Regions from separate parts of the Homo sapiens genome. Here all the other regions are linked to region 1. Evidence: fine-mapped QTL for protein levels in blood plasma. A gene starts in region 1. Each other region holds a variant in brackets. All regions are shown on one strand. Distances are between the middles of the regions.

Region 1 (4,211 bases):
CTTGGCATATCATGTGCTGTCAGAGAACCCTTATTAGATTTCCCCATTCTCATGTCTTTTTGCTGGATTATTGATCCTGATTCCTGTGCTCTTCCCAAGTACTCTGTATTCTACTCCCAAGTAGCCGGGACTACAGGCACCCGCCACCACGCCCAGCTAATTTTTTGTATTTTCAGCAGAGACGGGGTTTCACTGTCTTAGCCAGGATGGTCTCGATCTCTTGACCTCGTGATCCGCCCACCTCGGCCTCTCAAAGTGCCGGGATTACAGGCTTGAGCCGCTGCGCCCGGCCGGAATTCCGAAGTTTTATTTTCAAAAGTATAACAGGAATTTTACTCAAATTCAACCACAAGTTGTCCACTTCTAAACAAATAGTCCCCTACACAAATAGCGATCCTGGAGTTTATAACAAGTAAGACCTCCCAGGATTTTGAAATTGGTACTCTTTTTGCTCCCAGAACAGAAAGGGAAAGTAAAAAAACAGTAACCACCCACTTCAGAGATCAGGGTTATCATTAAATGTACACTAAGCTCCTATTGAGTGCAGAGCATTAGGCCAATTTGAGATTTTTCAATAGAAGAATAAAGATATTATAAATGTAAACTTCCTTAAAGCCCTAGACAGAGTTCCTCAAAACACCGCAAAAGGACACCAAATGCCTGTAAGCTGAGTTGAAGGAAAGCATACGTACCATCTGAAGCAGAAACTCGCCACGCAACCATAAGACAGCACGCACACCAAAAAAACATCTGGTGATCAAAGTCCTCTCCCCAGGCTGGAATTCACCCAGCTCAGACACCTGGTTTGAAAAAAAATAGATCTTCTAACACTGCTTAAGACCAACCTAACCACCTCCTCTCTAGAGAAGAGGTTATATTGATTTACCCTCCCTGGAGAAAATGAAAAGAAAAAATCTTACGACAGGAAATCAGAACAGCTGTAAGGAAGCTGGTATAGGGAGGAACTGCAAAAATACAAAGGGATGGTAAAAGAGTTGCCAGGTTTAAAACTCAGTTTCAGAAATTTCCTGGTTTCTGGGAATGCAAATCCAGTTGACCAGTCTTTTTGAAACGCAGGCTTATCCTTCCCCAACAAACATGGGCCAAATGGTCTTGCCATGACCTTGACTTCTGTCAATAGTTGCCAATGTTTACAGTCCAACTTCTGTAACTCTGGCCAGCACTGGGGAAAGAGAACGGGCTGTCAATCCCTGGTTCTTGCCCAGGTAGAACACAATTTTGAATGCTACCTCATCCTCCTTTCCTGAATACCAGATATCCTAAGGCTGTAAGCAGCACTGAAGACGAAAGCTCAAGGAAGTAAACTAACCTTACCTGTCTCTGTCCCTCCAGAGTTAGGGCTTCCCAGCAAGGAACTGGTCTTAACTGACTCCAAAGCTGAGAGCTCCAAAGTCCTGCAGTGACACATTGTTCTCGCTTGCCAGGCCTGTACCCAGGCTTCCTACTTTGTGGCTCTTCCAGGGACAGGATTTGGCCTGAGTCCAGAGTTAACCAAATGAGTAAAGAGAGAGGTGAGGAGAATGCTTTGGTCTCAGGAATTAAGGCATGTAAAATTGTTTTGAGGGATCCCATATCATCTTGCTTGTGACTACTATAACCCTTGGTTGGTTCTCTGTGCTGTAATTATGAAACTGGGGAAAAATTCCTACAAAATTTCAGGTTTTAATAGAATAATAAAGCATTAAGGACACAGTAAGGTTGCAAATGTTCTTCTCTTCTCCATCCATTACTACTGTTTGTGATGATTAATCTATGTCTTTCTCCTGAAAGGAATCAGGATATGCCACCCCCAAATATTTGGCGTTAAGATTCTTTTAAGCTGAAGATATTTGAGATTCAGTGATATGGAAAGGAACAGAGATTTTGGGGGCTTTCCTTATCTGACTAAAGGCAGCAACCTTGGAGATAAGGTTGCCATAAATTCCTTTTCAGGGTAGGTCTATCCTGGAGGGGAGAGCATGAGTAAAACATATTTCAAATTCCTTCTCCAGAGAAATTTCATGGCCTTGAAGGAGACAGAAAGAACACTCGTACTTATATACACAAACATTATCACAAAACTTTCTAATTTCCTACTTTTCCCCTGAAAACCCACTTGCCTTTCCAAAAAATAATCTGTTTTCTTTTTTGTTTGAGATGGTGTCTTGGCATGATCTTGGCTCACTGCAACCTCCACCTGCCAGGTTCAGGCCATTCTTGTGCCTCAGTCTCCCGAGTAGCTGAGATTACAGGCATGCGCTACCACGCCTGGCTAATTTTTGTATTTTTAGTAGAGATGGGGTTTCACCATGTTGGCCAAACTGGTCTTGAACTCCTGACCTCAAATGATCCACCCGCCTTGGCCTCCCAAAGTGCTGGGATTATAGGCATGAGCCACCGCACCCGGCCAATAATCTGTTTTCTTGTAAGTGCCTTTCTTCTCCCCACCTTCACCTATTAAGATGATGTATAAGCCCCAATTCTAACCAACTTTTTGAATTACTTATCACTGAGTTTTCCCACATGTACTCAAGTTACATGTATAAATAGAATTTTCTCTCCTGTTAATCTGTCTTAGTCTAATTTGCAGGTCCCAGCCACTGAATACAATATGGTAGAGGAAAGGTGTTTTTTTCCTCCCCTTTATTCCCACAGGAAACTGCTAACTCCAGGACAGGGTTTGTGTCTGATTTGTATTTGTATTCCCTTCCACGGTGCTTCATATTGCAAAGCAGTTGTCTGTTAAATGAATGAAAGTAATGCAGAAATAAATGAAAAAAACTGTCATCCAGAAACTCTACCACAGCCCCCAAAATCCATATGATCACTTGCCATTTATCACATGCTGCCTTATGATTTTTTATGTCTTATCTTTTCTTAACTAATATGCAAATTCCTATAGTGTAAGCACCCTCTAAGACATGATTTTCAAAAAGTTAAAAATATGACACAAGTAAATATAAGATGAATATATATCAAAGATTTAATTCAACTCATTAATTAATGAGGAAACATTCAGATGCTACAACTGGTTCAAAGAAGAATTTGAGGAATAGGAATGCATATAGTCAGTCAGTCAAAAGCATTCTGAAGTGACCTTTCCAATAGATACAAAACTGGTTAATATCCTACAGAGTAACAAACTGTAATATTTGCAATTAGCTTTTCTACCTGGTGGAAAGTAATTAAAACAAAATGGACAAAATATATTTGCTCTACTATAACCAGGAATCATTTGCATTGTTCTCAGATAAGAGTCATTTGCATTCCTATAAATTTACTGCAAATTAACCTCTATGCTTAAAGAGTTCTAAAAGAACTTTAAATAAAGTCAGTCAGAGATCATCTCCAGAGGGCCTGCTAGAAAATGCCCAGGAATCCATTGAGCATTTACTCCAGTGATCTCTTTTTGCTAATCCTAAGCTTTGAATAATTTTTATTTACATACCCCATGTTCTACTTCTTGAGGAATGCATGTTCTTCAGTATCTTTTATAGATTTATATACAGAATGTTTGTACAATAAATTATTTTAAAAAGGAAGGAAAATCTAGTTTAGCCCTACATAAATATGGACATAAAATAGAACATGTATTACAGGAAATAATTGCAAGTAATTCTTCATCTTAATGGCTTACTTCAGATTCAGAACTATAGGACTTTAGAAACCATATCACTTATACTATTGTCTTACTAATATTTCTCCATAAAATATAAAAATACAAAAATATTCACACTAAGTGGGCTCTATAGAGACAATAAATAGCATCACAAAGTTTGGGTCAGGTTTTTTCTGTCAAATGAATTAGAAGAAAACTTTGTCTCAAAGGTTTTTGGATTTTAGAATTAGAGATTAAAGAAAGAAACAGAGAGTGATTGAGAGAGAGAAAGAGAGTAATATGGTGGGTCTTGGGGGAGAGGCAGAATCAGAGATAGATGCAGAGAGATAGAGATGCTTAGGAAGGGGTGTCTGGGGACTCTGAAGGACAAGTCTCCACCTGGCACTGCCATTGTCCCCCGCCCCAATCCCACTCTTCCCTCCTCAGCCCTCTCTCCCCACAGGATGAGCAAGAGCATCAGAGACAGAGATGGAGACAAAAGACAGACAGAGGAGACACTGACAGAGTGAATCAGAGAGAGACAGAGACAGAGGAATTTCTCCTCTTCTCTCTGCCTCCCTCCTCCTCTCCCCAACACCTCCCCCTTCACCAC
Region 2 (4,246 bases), 22 kb before region 1:
GTATACTGAAGACACTGCAGAATGGATGCAGGGCATGTTGAGGGAACAATAGATAATATTCCAATTTGGCTGAATGTCTGAGATGGGGAAGGGACAGTTTACAGATGTGTCTGAGTGGGATGTAAACGTCAAGTTTAGGAAATTCATAGACTTTACTCCTTGGGGAATAAAAGTGCTTGTTTTTGATGTGAATGTTTGTTTTTAAGCTGAGGAATGACATAATTATTATGCTTTAAGATCATTATGGCAGACATGCACAAGATAAATTAAAGGGATTAGAGGAAAGAAACAGGGAGGTTGAGTGAGAAGACTTGCAATTGGCCAGATGATCTAACAAAGAAATGACAGAGGACTTAAAAGAAAGGTACAAACATAAAAAAAAAAAAAAAAAACAAAAAGGCAGGAAAATGATGGGATAGAGAGAAAGAGTTGAGTCGCCGTATAGAAGTATTGGGAGTTCCTTGTGAGAACTATTGACAAAGGCAATAAACCATGAAGCAATTTGCAGTTTTGAAAAATGATCATAAACACACACACACACATATATATATATGAAAAATATACATGGCAAATGCACTTTTATTTTTAAATCAGACTATATAGACTTGTTTAAAGCAAAATTAGTAAGGACTTTTTTTTTTAATCTTCATCACCACTTCCCATTCCCTTTGGAGAACACAACATATCCTAAGTTTGTGTTAGGAAAAAGTCCCTTTCCTTTGGGTAGATACTCAATAGTGGGAATCAAAGGGGAGTTCTATTTTTAGTTTTTTAAGAAATCTCTGTACTGTAAATCTATAAAAATAAAAAATTAAGAAAAGAAATAGTCCTTGTCTTCAAAGGAATATATGAAGTTAACCAAATTCACTCCCATAAAATAGTGAATTTCATCCTTTACTTTGACATCTTTGTTAGATCCAGATGGTTGGACGCTCTCGTGCATCCATAATTCATACAAAGCCCATATACATTTAGGTAAAGGGAGTCCCTTCAATCAATATTTCTCCCCAAGATGTTTCAGTCCCACATAATGTAGGACTGTAATGTAATGTATATCTAAGGTAATGTTCAGTCCCTCAACATAAAGCTGGTCTCAGTAATATGGGCCAGTCTTACATAATGTGGGACTGAAACATCTTGGAGAGAAACTGTGTGGGAGAAGGGAAGTTTATAGTGCCCTTCATTCTTTGTGGGGTCTAATTTCTTCATTGAGTAAAGACTCACATAAGCTTCTTCTCTTTCTAAAACTTAGTTCTGATGAAGCCATCCCTCCACCTGTTGTCAGCTGTGGGAACCCCATGTCACACACGTCCTGTCCCATGAGCTCTATACATCCCCACCGGGGCAATTCTGCCAATACGTAAATTCACCTAACGAGCAATTTACCAGTTGTAGTCACTTACTGGAAATGTGTTCACAGACTTTGTACTGAATGAATCCAGGTGGTCTAGAGAGGTTGGGAGGAGCCAGGACCAACATTCTGGGACTTCATACTTCCCCTTTCTACTCAGTTTCCCCCTCTTTTTTCCCATTATCCTCCTTCCTAACTCTATGCTCCTCTCTGCCCTCACAATCTTGTGAAGCTGGAGACAGCTGAGAGCCAGGCAGGTTGCATATCATGAAAACCACCTCACTCATCATCTGTGAAATTCATAAAATGTGACAAATTTCTCCCACCCAATAAGATATGTTATGAACTATGAAAACTATGGGAAAAAGTTTCTTCAATTTTTGACAATGAGTAGATTTGTTGTGTTTATTGAATTTCAGTGAAATTGAAGAAAGAGATTAAAAACACCAGTGGGGTGGCAAAATAGAATTGACTATGAAAAATCAAAAGGATAAGAGTAGAAAGTGGAAATTTCCCCTAGGAATTGTTGCAGTTGTTATTACATTCACAAGAAAAATATATATGTTGAATATGTTCAGAAAAATATTCATGACTATATTTACAAAAATACAACCATAAGATTAAATCATTAGCTTCAAGAAGTTGAACAAAAATATCTTAAATGCCACTAAAATATGTATTCATTAGCTACATTCAAAAAGGATATATTTATACTCATTGAATACTCAAAATGATTTCTTTTTCTTTTTCTTTTCTAAAATTGTAATAGAGATGTGATCTTACTATGTTGCCCAGGCTGGTCTCAAACTCCTGGCCTCAAGCAATTCTCCCGCCTCGGCCTCCCAAAGTGCTGGGATTACAGGCATAAGCCACCATGCCTGGCCTCCAAAATGAATGTTTCTTGAAACAATGTTAGATAAATTGATACTTTGATAAATTCAGCAAATTTATTTCTATGAACTGATCCTTCAAGTACTGGCATTCACTCAATTGGCTTTGATGACTAACTTTTCGGTATTGTGGTCTGACCCCTTAGGCTCCAGCTATCCTGGACAACCAGAATTCCTTACCATTCCCAGCACTTTCCTATCTCCC[A/G]TTCCTGTCCACATCATCTACCCTCTCTCTTTTTCCTCTTTAATTCCTACTCATTCTGCCAGTCCCTTCTCCAGCATTCCCTCCTATCCAAGCAAGCCTCCACATACCAAGTACAATTTTGTATTTATAACTCTGATTCGGACTTGGTCTGTAACTCACATCTGAAGTCTGCCTTCACCACTAAACCACAAGATCCTTGAAATGACAGAGTATGCTCCCATTTATTTCTGCCCCACAATAGTACCTAGCCTGCGCCTCATGAAGTTAAAGTGCTCACAAAATGTGCATTGAATTTAAATCCAAAAGCTCCTAGTGATAACGTGTGTTCCAAAGAAAAGTAGTACTGTGCCATATCAGTGTCTCCCCTTACAGTGTATGCTTTGTTAAGGACTGATTTTACCTGATTTTAAAGCAAGGCAAACACCTGTATTTTAATGAGAACTGGCCCAAATAATTTTACTCTAGGCTCTTCCATTCTTAAACTGAAGTCATCATATCATCAACTAGTCAAGGGAGGACAGTGAAGGAGGGAAGCAGTAGGCAAAAACTGGTTCTCCTCCTTCCACAGGTTATGACAGGAGATACAGACAAATGCAGACCCTACACTGTGATGAGGAAGTTATTTCACTCCCTTTACTTCATCCTCACACCTAGGCCATGGCCACAGAGCTGGGGACAGAGGAGGACAGTGTGGCCAAGACCTTGGGCATGGGCTCTGGAGTCACACCCAGAACATGTGAGTTGGCGTCCTGGCTCTACCACATGGGAACCGAGTCCCATGGACAAAACACTCAGTTCCTCTAAGCCTCAGTTTCCTTTATTATAAAATAAGAAGGATAACTGTAATTATATCTCGGAATTTCTGAGAGGGGCTTGGCATGGTGTGTGGACAGCACATAGTAAACATTCAAAAGAAATTATAGGGAAGAGTTTCATAGAATTGGCATTGGAATGTCACTCTGTCAGAAGCCAAACTCCTGGATGTCAAAACATTGTCATCATAATGATTTAAAATTGCAATAAATGGTTGCATCACCAGGGACTTTAATTACACCCCAGTGCAGAGGAGCATCCACTGAACTTCCGGCTAGAAGCCCTGGATCTGGTCTCCACTGTGGCCTTTGGTACAGTGAGATCTAATGTGTCATGCACAGCAGAGGAATGCTGGGGCCTCTGGGGCTGTCCTGGGGCTTTGTCTTCCCTTGCCCTCAACTATCTTCCTGAAAGGAAGTCATCCACATCCATAACTTTAATCATCATACCTGAATCACCCACAGGTCAGACGCGGTAGCTCACGCCTGTAATCCCAGCACTTTGGGAGGCTGAGGCGGGCAGATCACGAGGTCAGGAGTTCAAGACCGGCCTGACTAACATGGTGAAACCCCGTCTCTACTAAAAATACAAAAATTAGCTGGGTGTGGTGGTGCACGCCTGTAATCCCAGCTACTCAGGAGGCTGAGGCAGGTTAATCGCTTGAACCCGGGAGGCAAAGGTTACAGTGATCCGAGATCACACCACTGCACTCCAGCCTGGGCGACAGAGAGACTCCGTCTCAAAAATAAATAAATAAATAAAATGAATCACCCACAGACCTCTGGGCCTAATTGTCTCTGGTTCATGCAAAAACTTCCATGCTCCATAAATTCAATTGTTAATAATTATTTTATTCTGTCTTATTCCTTCCTCCGTGTAAGTTTTAAGCTATTCAGGCTTGTCTTCTTTACTCTGGTTGCTAACTAGTTAAATTCTGGTGCTCAAATTACGTCTTTCTAAAGGCAATGAAATAAATCTCTGTAAAAT
Region 3 (4,217 bases), 43 kb before region 1:
CATTCTCCATGTCAGTAACTCGACCAGTATTAAAATGGGGTCTTTTGGACATACTCAAACACTTCCAGTGCTCATTTGTTTAGGAATTATAATAAAAATATTCAGCAATCATATGGTTTGGATATTAAAACAACAATAATATTTATGAAATGCTTTGCAGTGCAGAAAATACTTTTAAATATGTAAGTCATGAGTCTAAATTCACATTTGATCAGGTTTCATAACTTGGATAAATACTACTTCACTTCTGCTTTTAAAATGGTTAAAAATATTCTTTATTAAATAATTAAATCAATAAGATCATAGGGGATCAAATAAATGTAAACAACTGGGTCCTGCTCTGTCATCCAGGCTGGAATGCAGTGGCATGATCTCGGCTCACTGCAGCTTTGGCCTCTTAGCCTCAAGTTATCCTCCTACCTCAGCGTCCTGAGTAGCTGGGATTACAGACGTGTGCCACCACATCCCGCTAATTTTTTAAATTATTTGTAGAGACAAGGGTCTCACTCTATTGCCCAGGCTGGTCTCAAACTCGTGGGCTCAAGCAATCCTCCCGCCTCAGCCTCCCAAAGTACTGGGATTATAGGTAGGAGCCACCGCACCTAGCCTAAATACAACTATAAAGGAGGTTTTTAAACATTTATAAGCAATACTTTTTGTTATTTAAGTAATGGCGGTAAGTTTTATTAAGTATATTTTTAATTCAGTCCTTTTATTAAAATCTTTTATTCTATTTCCCCAAAATGAGTCTGAATAACTGCAATTAAACTTTGTTAAGTCTTAATATGAAATAAGTAATCTTCTGACAGGTTGATCTAAACTACCACTTTTCATTATTTATGCATTTCACAGATTGTTGAAATTCTGATATGCAGCATAAAATTCCCTGTATTCTTGGCCTCAGTGTCTTCACCTCTAAAGTGGCAAGGTTCTGATAGATGGATAGAAGAAAGCATTTTCTTCCTCTCTTGTCTGTTCCACTGAGGCTCATAATATAGTATCCACTTGTCGTTCAGTCCCTCACTCATTTCCACAAATAAAAGAGGTGCGTCTCCTACCAGAGAAACTGGAGGAAGTCTCCTTTCTATCCTTACGAAGTGAGAATGCTCAGTCACGAGTCAGGATTTGTCTTCTAGAGGCAGATCAGGAAGCCCTGCCATCTCATGGTTCAAGAGACATGAGACACAAGTCACCCTGCAGCTGGTTACGCTCATGACTGTTTCACAAACTTGTCTTCTGCCAAACACCCCAAAGCCCATACTGGGGAGGTAAGGGCTATGAAGGAAGCCTGACTCTGACAATAGTTGAGCTGTATTCTCCATTCTAGTTTTACCAGTAAGAAAACTAATACATAATCTGCATAATGTTTGACTTCTGTGTCTACTTCTCATTTGATTCTGAACTGGGATAAGGAAAGGTTACAATTTCTCAGTGCCTCAAACTGTAACATGTTTATGGTCCCCTTCTGGCACTAACAGTTTACTAATCTGTTGAATTAACTTAATTCTAAACTTGTTGTGAGGGATAAAATTATATTCATTTAAGGTAGAGAATCCTAGCACATACTGGACATTTAATATACAAAAATATTAAAAAACAAAAACTCACCCTCACATCCTTGGTATGGGGTCCATCTCAAATTTTTCTGACAAATCACAGTCGTAGGCTCATCTGTAGTGGGTTTGTAGCCAGGATGACAGCGGTACCTTAACACAGTCCCAACAACATACACATCCTCTTTTGTCGGCCTAGGATATGTTTCCCAGGAAGCATGTGGAATGTCTGGTAAATTA[A/G]TACAACTATCTACTCATGAAAGAAGAAGAAGAAGAACAAAAGGACGCTATTACTAGGGCTGCCACAGCAGTCAATAAGCCTGTCCTATCAAAGGGGGTCATACGTTCATTCAGCCTGGAACCAGCCTGCAAGGCCTGATGTATCAACCACACCAGAAAACACACATGGACATTCGCTCAAATGTGCACACCTCCAGAGAGGCTCTTCACTAAGGGCACTCCCAAGTGGTTTCCATGTGCTGTGCCAAGTATAATAATTTTAATTCTCATTCCTCTTCTTTACATTTCAGAGATTTTAGTTTCTGAACTGAAGCATGGCAGGAAAACTGTCACAAACAAATCTAACTATGTTTACTGATTGATTGGGGAAAATAAACAGGAGCCGTTCCCCTCATCCAGATGATACCAGGAATGACTTGGCAAGAAAAAAACCAAGCTCCAAACATTTTTTGAGCCTGGGCCTTGGATCTTGTCCTCTTCTCTCTTTCCCAATGCTACTGATTCATATGATATGAAAATATAATGCAAACATCTACCACGTTGGATGATTATTGAAATGGAATATAAAAGTTCTTTTTTAACAGCATTATTCAGATTAAAGTCACAACAAATAAATTCACCCATTTAGAATGTGCAATTCAATGGTTTTTAGTATATACAGAGTTGTGCAACCATCACCATTAACTAATTTCAGAATATTTTTATCAACCCAAGAAGAAACCTCATATTCATTATCAGTCACTCCCTATTTCCACCTCCCCCTAGGTCCTGACAACCACTAATCTATTTTTTTCTTTATGGATTTGCCTAATCTGAGCATTTTAAATAAATGGAATCACACAATACATGTACTTTTTGTGACTGGCTTATTTCAGTTAGCATAATATTTTCAAGGTTCATCCATGTTGTAGCATACATTAGTACTTTTTATTTTTCATTTTTATTGCCAAATGATATAATCTATTTTATGGATAAACCACTTTTTGTTTATTCATTATTCATTTGATGGGCATTTGGGTTGTTTGGCTATTATGAATAATGCTGCTATGAATCTTCATGTAAAATTTTTGTGTGTGGACATATGTTTTCATTTATCTTGGGTAGATACCCAGGAGGGTAATTAGAGTCATATGGTAACTCCATGGTTAAACTTCAGCAGGACTGCAAAAACTCTTTTCCAAAATGGTTGCACCAATTTACATTCCTATTAGCAGTGTATGAGAGTTCTAATTTTTCCACATCCTCACCAACATTTGTTATTGTCTATCTTTTTTATTACAGCCATTCTGCTGGATGTGAAGTGGTATCTGATTGTTACTAGAAGGCTATCCTTACAAGAAATGCTAAAGGAAATTGTTCAGACTGAAAGCAATTGACACCAGACGGTAATTTGAATCCACACAGTAAAACAATGAGCATCAGCAGAGGTCATTATGTCAGTAATTTGAACCACAGTATAATATATATTACTACTCCTTCCTTCTCTTAGCTGATTTAAACAGCAATTGCATAAAACAATATGTATATAATTGCATTATTAAGCCTATAACATACAGAAATGCAATATATTTGACAATAACATCACAAGAAAGGTAGGAGGGAACAAAGCTGTATTATAGTACAGAAATGACACCAGATGGTAACTTGAATCTACAGGAAGAAATAAAGAGCGCCAGAAATGAAGAATAAGAAGATTAACATAATAAACTCTCTAAATATATACTTGCCCTCCTTTCTTCTCTCAGCTACTATAAAAGACATGAAACATGAAATTATATAAAACAATAATTATAAAAATTTATTGTGCAGTTTGTAATATATGTAAGTGCAAAATATGTTGTTGGATTCTTGGTTGAGGTTTTTATCTTTCTGCACTTTGAATGTGTCATCTAGCTGCTTTCTAGCCTCCATTCTTTCTGATAAGGAATCAGATGTTAATCTTACTGGGGTTACATTGTACATGATGCGTTGCTCTTCTCTTGCTGCTTTCAAGATTTTCTCTTCATTCTTGGTTTTCAACATTTTGATTATAATGTCTCAAGGTCTAGACCTTTTTGCAATATCCTACTTGAGTTCAACAAGCTTCTTGGATATGTAGATTAATGTGTTGTTTTGTTCTTTTGTTTGGGTTTTTTTTTTTTTTGGTCAAATTTGTGATATTTTCAGCCATTTTTCCTTTGTATAGGTTTTTATCTCCTTTCTCTTTCTCTCATCTTTCTGGGACTCTCATTATACATATGTTGGTACACTTAATGGTGTCCCACATTTCTCTGATGCCATTTATTTTTCCTCATTCTTTTCATCTCTGTGCTTCAAATTGCATAATCTCAATTTATCTTCAAATTCACTGATTCTTTTTCCAACTCAAATCTACTGTTGAGTTCCTCTTTTGAATTTTTCATTTTACTTACTGTGTTTTTCAAC

Which allele goes with the higher level. Alleles are on the strand shown, and positions count from the first base shown. The strength of an association depends on the size of the effect and on how common the allele is.
For the plasma level of the protein whose gene starts at base 1,422 in region 1, allele A in region 2 goes with a lower level than allele G (moderate association).
For the plasma level of the protein whose gene starts at base 1,422 in region 1, G is the low allele of the variant in region 3 and A is the other (moderate association).

The links. A credible set is the group of variants that fine-mapping cannot tell apart. PIP is the chance, under the fine-mapping model, that this variant and not a neighbour inherited with it causes the effect. Protein levels are from antibody-based Olink assays in UK Biobank. Linkage for the fine-mapping came from a reference panel and not from the study's own genotypes, which makes the PIPs less certain.
Region 2: its variant is the best candidate, but not a certain one, in a credible set for the plasma level of the C4BPB protein (UK Biobank, PIP 0.78).
Region 3: its variant is the best candidate, but not a certain one, in a credible set for the plasma level of the C4BPB protein (UK Biobank, PIP 0.84).

Annotation. Positions count from the first base shown.
Region 1 is chr1:207,086,071-207,090,281 of GRCh38, reverse strand. It overlaps C4BPB (complement component 4 binding protein beta), which reads right to left and starts at 1,422. Exons shown (of 7, transcript NM_001017365.3): 1 at 1,336-1,422; 2 at 693-800. The coding sequence starts at 750.
Region 2 is chr1:207,108,497-207,112,742 of GRCh38, reverse strand. All of the region lies in intron 1 of C4BPA (complement component 4 binding protein alpha), which reads right to left. Among named protein-coding and RNA genes, the nearest start is that of C4BPA, 6.4 kb to the right of the region's middle. The variant A/G (reference allele first, on the strand shown) is at 2,447.
Region 3 is chr1:207,129,132-207,133,348 of GRCh38, reverse strand. It overlaps C4BPA (complement component 4 binding protein alpha), which reads right to left. Exons shown (of 12, transcript NM_000715.4): 8 at 1,609-1,803. It overlaps LOC107985251 (a long non-coding RNA gene), which reads left to right. Exons shown (of 3, transcript XR_007066838.1): 3 at 3,075-4,217. Among named protein-coding and RNA genes, the nearest start is that of C4BPA, 27 kb to the right of the region's middle. The variant A/G (reference allele first, on the strand shown) is at 1,794.